3 linked regions of the Homo sapiens genome follow. The protein of the gene in region 1 purifies or fractionates together with the protein of each later gene. This does not show direct contact. Each region holds a gene or a part of one and is shown on either strand. Other genes may lie near its edges. The genes, in order: UCP2, PIGR and ALDH3A1.

Region 1 (2,985 bases):
AACACAAATGGAAAGTATCCTCAGGCAGAGACCAGATGTTTGCCCTGCAGCCTCCACCCACCCTCTGTGGAGTCAGGGCCTGCTCCACCCAGTTCAGTAACATTTCCTCTGTGGGTGTGGCTGTGGCTGTGGAGGGTGGAAGGAGGCTGACTGACTTGTTCTCACAAGGTCTGGGACTTTGGGGGAGGTGGGTCTTCCTTCCATTTGTAAAATGGAATAAAATAAAGTCAACAGCATCTAAGAGTCTCATGTTCCTCTGGAACTGCAGGAGATGCAGGGCACACAGGAGCACTCTTGTTGTGCAGATAAACAGGCCTGCGGCTGGGGTGGGGGGTTGGGATGGCAGGCACTAGAGTACCAGATTCTGAGTAAGAGCTCAAGTGGCCCGGCAAAGGAAGGGGAGGCACTGCTGTCTCTCAGGTGGCTCCTGCACTCCCCATGTTAGTACAGGGCCTGGGTCTAGAGAGAAATGGACCAGATGACCTACACGGGCTTCAGATTGGATGCTGGAGGTGGAAGGTGGATCACACCCATTTTCAAAGTCAGGTGGTTCCTCCCCTGCCCACCAGGTACCAAAAAGGCCATTGGACCAAGACCTCTGGTAAGAGCTACAAGAGAGGGAGGAGACGCCAAGGTTGAGCTTGCTTTATGGATGACAAGTGGGCTAGGCTGGGCTGTCGGGGGCAGGACGAAGATTCTGGCTGAACTTTCCAAGGGACGGGACGCTTGGGATCCTGGCTGGTACGAGGCCTCCCACACTGTCAAATGTCAACTCCACCAGCACTGAGACAATGAGTAGATGAGAATGTAGAAAGAGGGAAGGTGGTAGGTAAAGGAGCGGAAGGAAGAGGTGGGGAAAGAGGGAAGGAGAGAAGGGAAGGAGGGAAGAGAAAGAAGGAAGAAAAGGAAAGCATGGCCCGGCTAGAGACAAAGCCAGAGGTGATCAGGTCAGCAGCAGGAGAGGCTCAGAAGGGAGCCTCTCGGGAAGTGCAGGCAGCCATGAGGGCTCGTTTCAGCTGCTCATAGGTGACGAACATCACCACGTTCCAGGAACCCAAGCGGAGAAAGGAGGGCATGAACCTAGAGGAGAAAAATCACAGGTCATGGGGGCACCTCCACCTCCCACTTCCCTCACTGGGCCTGGTATTCAATCCAACCCAGTTGCTCTGTCCCAAAGGAGGCTGGGAGGACTCAATGAACTGAGCTCACAGCTGCTTGGCTATAAGCATGAATTCCCTTTGAGTCTCCATTTAACACCTAATAAACAGTGATGGTAGCAATTCTGGGAGGAAGGAATTAAGGGGATAGGTGAATGCTGGTGAAATGCCAGGACCAGGATCAGAAATAGTCACACTTGGCTGCTACTCACTTCCAGGTGGTTCTCTCCCACCCACAATAGACATGCATAGCCAAGAGGCCTGAACTGGGTGGGGAGGACCAGAGGCTCACCCTTTGTAGAAGGCTCGGGGCCCCTCCTTCTGGAGCATGGTAAGGGCACAGTGGCCAGCGCTACTGTACTGGCCCAGGGCAGAGTTCATGTATCTCGTCTTGACCACGTCTACAGGGGAGGCGATGACAGTGGTGCAGAAGCCTGCCCCAAAGGCAGAAGTGAAGTGGCAAGGGAGGTCATCTGCCAAGGAGGAGCAGGCAAGGCAGTCAAGATCTTCACCCATCATTCCAGAAGGCAGGAGAATTACTTAAGTAGCTACGAGTTTTCATGATTTTAAAGAGACAGAGAGGCTGGGCACAATGTCTCATGCCTGTAATCCAGGACTTCTTTTGGAGGCCGAGGTGGGTGGATCACTTGAGCCCAGGAGTTCAAGACCAGACTGGGTAACATGGCAAAAACCCTGTCTCTACAAAATACAAAAATTAGCCAGGCACAGTGTGCATGCCTGTAGTCAGCCCCAGCTACTCAGGAGGCTGAGGTGGGAGGATTGCTTGAGTCAGGGAGGTCGAGGCTGCAATGAGCCATTAATCACCCCACTGCACTCCAGCCTGGGCAACCGAGCAAGACCCTGTCTCAAAAAACAAACAAGAGGATGGGGCGCAGAGGCTCACACCTGTAATCCCAGCACATTGGGAGGCCAAGGTGGGCAGATCACTTGAGGCCAGGAGTTCGAGACCAGCCTGGCTAACATGGTGAAACTCCATCTCTACTAAAAATACAAAAATTAGCCAGTGTGCTGGTGCACACCTGTCATCCCAGCTACTCGGGAGGCTGAGGCACAAGAATCGCTTGAACCCAGGAGGAGAAGGTTGCAGTGAGCTGAGATTACACGGGTAACAGAGTGAGACTCTATCTCAAAAAAAACAAAAAACAAACAAACAAAAAAACAAAAACAGACAGGGACTCCAGCTGAGACATCTTCTGAGGACCTGAAAGAGTCATTTTGCCAATCTAGCCTCAGTTCCTCAATGTGCAAAGTGGGAGCTTCATCCCAATTGGCTTCAATATGGCAAGTAAGAGATATCTTACTCTCCCTGCAAAGGGCAAATAGGATGAAAAGATGTGGTCTTCTGGTGTCAGCTAGACCCCCGCACCTGCTCCTGGCATGGGGGAAGGGTGAGACCCAGCACCGTCTACCTCATGACTCACCTGTCATGAGGTTGGCTTTCAGGAGGGCATCCTTGATGAGGTCATAGGTCACCAGCTCAGCACAGTTGACAATGGCATTACGAGCAACATTGGGAGAGGTCCCTGTAGGAGGAGGAAGATCCTGGGTGAGACCAGAGTATCGGGGAGGAGGAAAAGGGGAAGGGAAAACAACTGGTACACACCTTTCCAGAGGCCCCGGAACCCTTCCTCTCGGGCAATGGTCTTGTAGGCATTGACGGTGCTTTGGTATCTCCGACCACCTCCAGCCCGGGCCTGAGCTTGGAATCGGACCTTTACCACATCCGTGGGCTGGGCCACAGCCACAGCCAGGGCACCTGTGGTGCTGCCTGCTAGGAGGCGGCTCCCAATGCTGGCATCTGTGGGCG
Region 2 (3,649 bases), on another chromosome or scaffold:
CTACAGGTGCATGCTAGCTAATTTTGGTTTCTATTTAGTAGAGACAAGGTTTCTCCATGTTGGCCAGGCTGGTCTTGAGCTACTGACCTCAAGCAATCCACCCTCCTTGGCCTCCCAAAGTGCTGGCATTACAGCTGTGAGCCAGCATCCAGCCATCCATTGTTTTTTCAAACAATAACACCACTTTCGTAAGGTGTTACATGTTTGCACTTGCCATGTGTTATTTCCTTATATTTCTAAAAGCACTTTGTAGATGATTTTCTTTTCTTTTTTTTCCCCCAGATAAAAATATTGAGAGCCAGAAAGGATAAGTGACTTCCCTCAGATTTCACAGCGGGTCATAGAGATGCTTGGTTGAAGTTAAGGTCTTTGTTATTCTCAAAGAAGATCTTTCACAGACCCCTGGCCTTGAGATTAGGAAGTGCCATTCCTGTCCCTGACTTCCAATGCTCACAGATGTGGCCTTTCAGTGTCTTCTCTGTATGACTCTTCCTCAAGGAAGTGCCAACTTTGAGAGGGACATCCCTGGGGATGAGTCTGATTTTAGTGTCCCCAGGGAGGTGAACCCTGGAGTCGGGCAGGCTGAAGGGGTGGAGCTTGGAGAGTTGGGGCCTGGCAGACACACCTGGGAAGACCGCCAGCAGGCAGGTGAGCACGAAGAGCAGCATTGCTGGTGGGTCCCGAGCGCCGCACCACTCAGGCCGACTTCTCCTGTGCAATGCTGAAAAACAATAATCACAAGGAGATGAAGCGCCCCTTGTCTTCCAAGACTAGTTGACCTTAGAGTTTCTGTGACATCTATTTGGCTTTGTATCTCCAGCAACTGACATAAATCCTGTTGAATGAATCAGTGCCTCCACTTTTTCCATAACAATTCAAAGTCTTATCATCCTTCAACACTTGTATATCCTTAATAGCTAGAAGTAGCTTTTGTCTTCTCAACTAAGCTGCAAGCTCCTTTGGGATAGAGATATTGTGTCATTTGCTCTGTTTCCCTGCCCATGAGACACAGTCCCAGGCACACCGTAAGATCTCAGGAATGGCTTGCTGGGTGATTGGTTCCTACCAATACGTGGCCCCCATCTCTCTGTTTCAGCTGCCCTCCCTACATTCCTGGGAGGTGAAGCGGGCTGACATATTTCACAGTGTGTTCAGATGAGGAAACTGAGACCCACAGAGGAGGTGTCATGATTATTAAGGCTGTAAATGTAATGATGATGGTCCTAACCCCATTGATTGCTCCCTTATTCTGTCTCAGGCACTGTGTTGAATAATTTATGTGTACTATCTCATACAGACTTGATATCAGCCCTGTGAGGTTAGTATCCTTATCCACATTCACATGGGAGGAAATGAAGGCTTCAAGGTTAAGTACTTTCCTCAAGGGCACATGGGGTTAAATGTGTGGGGGTACACAGAATGGGGGTCGGGGAAGATTTGGGCCCACCTTTGTCTGACTGCAAAGTCCATGTGCTTAACCTCTCCACTACTGTATCGCACCCCAAATACAAGAGCATGCTTTTACCTTATGCTTATTTGTGTTATTTGTAGAGACCCTGTTGCTTATGAAAGCACTACCATTTACATTATTTCATTTGAGCTTTATATGTTCCCTTGAAATAAGACAGACGGGTATAATCACAACCATTTTATGGATAAAACATTGAGGTCTTGAGATGCTGAATGATAGGCTTACGTTTTCCCAGCAACTTGGTTATGGAATTGGGGTTAAAAGCTTAGGTGTTAGGGTCTTTGTAATCCTGCCTGGTAAGGCCTGGCAGACAAAGATGAAGAATCGAAGATGAGACCACTCAGACGGAGCAGCCTGTGTGGACTTTGTCTCCACCGTGGACACAGCCCAGGGCTGAGGAGAGTTGAGGGTCCCAGGGGTCTGCCTGACAGCAGCTGTCATCAAGACCCCAACTACAGCCTAGAGGAGGAGACAGAAGTCTCCACTTTCCCAGACTTTGACAGACTTTAAACTTTGGAGTTGTCTTGACAAAGAGAGTGTTAAATGATCGTAAGTTTGGGCAGTAATGAGTGCCCATAAAGATAAGGACGCTGTAAGCAGGAGGAAGCTGGGCGTTATCTCCCAGACCTCCCTCACCACCCTGGCCCCTGCTCCTGCTCCCAGACTCCCTTCACCAGCTTGAGCCAAAGGCAATAGAGTTGTTTATCTTGGTTATTTCTTTGTTGCAGGGGAATTTCCCAGCAAGGAACCTTTTATTTCCTTGTGAATATAAAGGTATTTTGTTTCTGCAGTTCTTTGGAAGAATAAAGGGAGGGAGTGGGAACAAATATGGGTGTCAGATGGCAACGTTGAGGCTCTCTTGAGTCCGGTTAATTGCCCCAGACCTTTCTTACCAGGTCAATGATTAATGCCTGGAGTGGGGCCTTGGCCAAATACCAGTCAGCTCCAACATGGAAGCAATCAGGGGACACTAGCTGGGATGTCATCACCTGCGTGGGCACTGCAAGCTGCCATGGGAGATGCTCCCAGGTGGGAGCAGCTTTCAGGAGGCCAGGAAGTCTCAGAAACAGTTGGGATGGGCTGGCTGCAAAGTCCTGGGAGATCTACCATTTTCTACTTGTGCTGGCACAGGGTGGGTGCAGTCACAGGTGGGAGGACAAAATGCTGCCTGCTTTTAAGAACCCACACCAGCAGCAGCTGTCCTTGCTTCTTGTTCCTGTCCTCACCTCTAGATAAGCAAGCTGCCTCATATTTGCGTGAGACAGGAGTGGTCTTCCCACAAGCTGAGCTGGGGGATGCAGCCCTCCTCTGGACTTGGCCTGGGTTGCAGAGAGTCAGATGCCAGCTTCTCCAAGGTGAAGACCACCCTGACCTCTGTCCCAGACTTCTCATTTTGTGACATGTTTGGGTGGCTGTGCATGTTTGTGTAGAGAGGGGACATGTGTGTGCACCCATTACCCTCTGCATGGTCTCAAGCCAGGGATGAGAGCATCAGGCATGCACAGGCAGGTCGGGCAGATGGCAACATCAGCGGGATGCACACAGTCCAGTCCTAGATGGGATGATTGGCAGGAGAGGATACCCCTGCTTTCAGGAACAGGAGCTCTTCTTTGCCCAAAGCTAAAACTTGAAGCACAATTTCTCTAGTAGCATTTGAAAGGACCTCGAGCTTTCAGAATCATTACAGACCCCTTCCTCTCAAAACCAGAGACTTTCTTCCAAACCTGGGGATTCAAATCTCGGGAGACCTCCCCAGCCCAGGGTGGCTGGGGCTGGATTTAAAGGATTTGCTTAAGGAAGGAAGAAAAAGAACATAATGTTGGGCACCTGCTACGTGCCAAATGCTTTGCTAGGTTCTTTTCTTGTAAGACTTCATCCATCAGCACAACAACCCAAGAGATAGATGTTGTTATCCTCATGACACAGGTTGGAAATCTAAGGGTTATAGGGATTCTCGACCCCAAGACCCACAGCAGAATCCTAATTTGAGGTCACTACCCCATTATCACTCTTTAAATGAGCAAAGGGACCTGCTTTATTGGGTTTTATATATATGATATTATATCATGCATGAGGGCACGTTTTCTGGTCCTTAAACTAGCAGTTGTTTTTTCACTGCTGAGGCTAGGATGTGCTAGATCATTTTCAGTTTACTAAGTTAGTATCCCAACATATGTG
Region 3 (3,649 bases), on another chromosome or scaffold:
CAGCTGCTTTTTCTGCAGCCTCTGCTTGGAGTACCACTTCCCCAGTGATGCGCACTCAGCAAACAGAGCTCAGCCTAGACCTCTCCCCCTCCAGGAAGCCTTCTGGGACTCCCCACACGTCTTCTGTGCATGTGGTCCCCACCCCTACCCCCATGTAAGTTTCTGCAAGGACCACTGCTCCATGAGGCAGGGGGTGTCTGTGTTACTCAGAGTGGACCCACAGCATGAGGTGCAGTCATGTGTGCTTGGAAAGCAGAGTAAGGACTGCTGCAGCCAGCAGGCCCGTGCCTCTCACCGGCAGGCCACGTCCAGGTCACAGTTCTTGTCCACGTAGCAGGGACTCTTCCCTCCCAGCTCCAGCGTGACAGGGGTCAGGTGCTTGGCAGCAGCCGTCATGATGATCTTCCCCACCCCCGTGCTGCCCGTGTACAGGATATGGTCGAACCTCTCCTTGAGCAGCTCCGTGGTCTCAGGGACACCCCCATTGATTACTGGGTACAGATCCTTCCATGCAAGGAGAGAGGGGAGGCTCAGCAAAGACCAAGCCCCTCCTCGCTCTTGCAAGTGTGGGTGAGTTGCAGTGGCCAAGACCAGCAGCCCCGAAGCTCAGCACCCCACCTTGGGCGGGGGGTAGCAGTAACTGGCAGTAGACCGCCTTTCCTGGCCCAGGGGCTCTGTTCACCCCAATGAGAGAGGGCAGCTGCTAAGAACAATCCTCAGCCCCACCAGTAGCTTGGCCCCTTGCTGCAAGAATTCACTATTTCTCACCCCCCAAAGACCTGGCCCTAGCTCAGTTATGAGGCCATGGAGTTACGAGGCCCTGGAGGGCAACTCACCTTGTCCAGGTACTGGGGGATGATGGTAGCCAGCAGGCTCGCCATGTTCTCACTCAGCTCCGAGGGCTTGAGGACCACTGAGTTCCCTGCAGAGCACACCGAGCCAGGCCTATGCCCAGGGTACTTCACCAGAGGCTCTGCCCTCCCAAGGACCACACCTGAAGCCTCCCCTCCATTGTGTGTCCTCGGGACAGTGGATGGAAGAGTTGTTAGCAAACAAGCACATGTCACGGGGCACACCCAGGAGCACGCACGGGCACATGACAGAGGGACACACACGGGCACACGCTGGCCAGAGCTGCACCACCTGGCCCTCTGAGTTGCTGAGATGTTGGAGGAAAAGCAGAAAGGGGAGAGAGGCTCTGGGGGCCCGGTTGGTAGAACAGCGCTGGCCCATTCTAGGAAGGAAGCCCTGATGCATATTAGGTGACAGAAGCTCCAGCCCCCCAACAGGGGTGGGGGAAGGCAGGCCCTCTCTGTATCACCAGGTGTGGACACCTGAGCCTGACTGGACCTCAGGCACCAAGAGGCCTGGCTAAACAGCTTGGTCCCCACAGCCTCCTGTGACAGACCCAGCAAACCCTTATCTGACCCCAGGACTCTTAACACAGGCCTGAGCCCATCCTGGCTTGGCTCCACGCTGGGGGACGGTGCTCCCCCAGCTTCCCTTCCCACAGGGCCATGCACCTGCAGCGATGGCGCCCACCATGGGCTGGATGGTGAGGTTGAAGGGGTAGTTCCAGGTGCCAATGACGAGGACCACGCCCAGTGGCTCCGAGTGGATGTAGAGCTCGTCCTGCTGAGTCTGGGGCGTCTTCTCCACGGGCTCATCCGCGGCCCACTCAGGGAGCTTCTGGATCATGTACTCGATCTCCTCTAGGACGTACACCACCTCCTCATAGTAGGCGTTCCATTCATTCTGCAGCGACAGAGCCGGAGTGAGCTTCCAGGGCCAGGGCCCGCCTGCAGCTGGGGCGAGTGGGGAGCCCCACTGCTCAGCTGCCAGGGTGATGGGGGTCACTCACCCAGCCCAGGGTGGGGGCAGCCGCAGAAGGCTCCCAGGGGAAGCAGAGCCAGGATTAGCCGTTGGACCTGTGGGTCTGAGAGGACCCCTTTCTGCCAGAGGGGGGCCCAGGTAGGTTTGCGGCCCCAGGGGAGAGAGCCGGTGAAGGGACCAGGCATGGGCAACGGAATGGATCCAGGTAGGGGGAATAGAGCCGGGCAGGGGAGAGTAGATTCAGGCAGTGGGAATGGATCCGGGGAGGGGGGGATGGATCCGGGGAGGGGGGATAGATTCGGGCACTGGGAGCTGGATCCGGGCAGGGTGGAGGGAGCCAGGCCCTTTAGTTGTCTGGAGGGGGATGCAGGACCAAGGGCTGCTGGGCGCTCAGGGCCTCCTGTGGGGAGCAGGGGTGAGAAGAGGAGATGCAGACGGCGGAAAACGCGTCTCTTTTATAAACTTGGGCTGTGAAGAGCAACACAGAAGCTGTAAAGTCAACAGAATGGGTTTCCTTGTTGTTTCTGGTTTAAGATGAGAAGTCCTGAGCCATTTCTTGAAAAGTGCAGTAGCAGGCCCGGCGCTGTGGCTCATGCCTGTAATCCCAGCACTCTGAGAGGCCGAGAACTCCTCCTGAGGAACTCCTGAGGGCAGGAGTTCAAGACCAGCCTGTCCAACATGGCGAAACCCTGTCTCTACTAAAAATACAAAATTAGCCGGGCATGGTGGTACACGCCTGTTGTCCCAGCTACTGGGGAGGCTGAGGCAGGAGAATTGCCTGAACCCGGGAGGCGGAGGTTGCAGTGAGCCGAGATCGCGCCATTACACTCCAGCCTGGGCGACAGAGCGAGACTCTGTCTCAAATAAATAAATAAAATAAAATAAAAATAAAAGTGCAGGAGCAAAGAGGGTAGTCGGTGGGAGGATGGGCTCCGGAGCGCTGGACCCCAGGCAGCATGTGGGGACAGCAGGGGGCTGCGAATGCAGAGGTGTCTGGTCTTGCTCAGGGTGAGGGACGGAACAGCCCCTGTGAGAACTGGGAGGGAGGGGAGAGCCCCCCATGCCCTCCGGGGTGCCAAGCTGCTCTGGTTCCTGGTGTGGAGAACCAAGTGGTCCTGCGTGGGGCTGAGGAATGGGGAGGACCAGAAGTTCAGGGTGTCGGGGCAGCAGGAAGTTGAAATGGGGGACGCTGCGGGCGGGACGCGGAGGCCGGGCCAGGAGGAAAAGGCCAGAGGGCGGAAGAGGCGGCGGGGGCGCGCGGGGCGCGGCGGAGGGGAGGGCGGTGCGCCCAGTCTCCGCGACCGAGGGGCCAGGTGGCCCCAAGTCCTTCCTGAACCTCTCTGGGTCGCACTCTCCCCAGCCCCTCCCCCCACGCCCCATCGCATGGCCCCGACACTGGCAGAAGGCGGCCGCCCAGCCTGAGCACCTTGTGCAGGTCTGCGGCCAGCGCGCCCACCAGCTCCTGCTCCTGCTCCTGGATCAGGCGCTGCAGCGCCTCCAGCTGCTGGATCCGGAACTGCAGCGGACGGGTCCTGCCCGAGCTGAAGGCGGCGCGGGCGCGCTTCACGGCCTCGCTGATCTTGCTCATGGCGCCTGGGGACAGAGAGCACCTGCAGCTGGCTGAGGGGCACGAGCGCGCCCTGCCTCCCACCCTGCCTGAATTCTATAGGAAGGGACTTCCCTGGGCTCGGCCTTGGGGAAAATGGCCTTTCCGCTGGAAGGTCCACTTTCTGCCTCGCCTCCTCTCCCGCCCCTCACTCAGACGCCTGGGCCCTGGCTGCCTTGCTAGCCCCTGAGAAGGTGACACCCGCCGCAA

What was found.
Region 2: the proteins of UCP2 (region 1) and PIGR purify together in Homo sapiens (affinity purification with mass spectrometry; 2 studies listed by BioGRID and IntAct, with this or other methods). This does not show direct contact.
Region 3: the proteins of UCP2 (region 1) and ALDH3A1 purify together in Homo sapiens (affinity purification with mass spectrometry; 2 studies listed by BioGRID and IntAct, with this or other methods). This does not show direct contact.

What each region holds. Positions count from the first base shown.
Region 1 is NC_000011.10:73,974,042-73,977,026, forward strand, and holds the end of UCP2 (dicarboxylate carrier SLC25A8), read right to left. Parts: intron 2,977-2,985; coding exon 2,782-2,976; intron 2,702-2,781; coding exon 2,600-2,701; intron 1,631-2,599; coding exon 1,450-1,630; intron 1,081-1,449; coding exon 966-1,080; 3' UTR 631-965; downstream 1-630. UniProt on the Homo sapiens protein: Antiporter that exports dicarboxylate intermediates of the Krebs cycle in exchange for phosphate plus a proton across the inner membrane of mitochondria, a process driven by mitochondrial motive force with an overall impact on glycolysis, glutaminolysis and glutathione-dependent redox balance.
Region 2 is NC_000001.11:206,939,864-206,943,512, forward strand, and holds part of PIGR (polymeric immunoglobulin receptor precursor), read right to left. Parts: intron 722-3,649; 5' UTR 669-721; coding exon 626-668; intron 1-625.
Region 3 is NC_000017.11:19,741,709-19,745,357, forward strand, and holds part of ALDH3A1 (aldehyde dehydrogenase, dimeric NADP-preferring), read right to left. Parts: exon of another isoform or gene 3,427-3,649; 5' UTR 3,422-3,426; coding exon 3,260-3,421; exon of another isoform or gene 1,862-3,259; intron 1,756-1,861; coding exon 1,524-1,755; coding exon of another isoform or gene 923-1,523; coding exon 837-922; intron 505-836; coding exon 296-504; intron 1-295. UniProt on the Homo sapiens protein: ALDHs play a major role in the detoxification of alcohol-derived acetaldehyde. They are involved in the metabolism of corticosteroids, biogenic amines, neurotransmitters, and lipid peroxidation.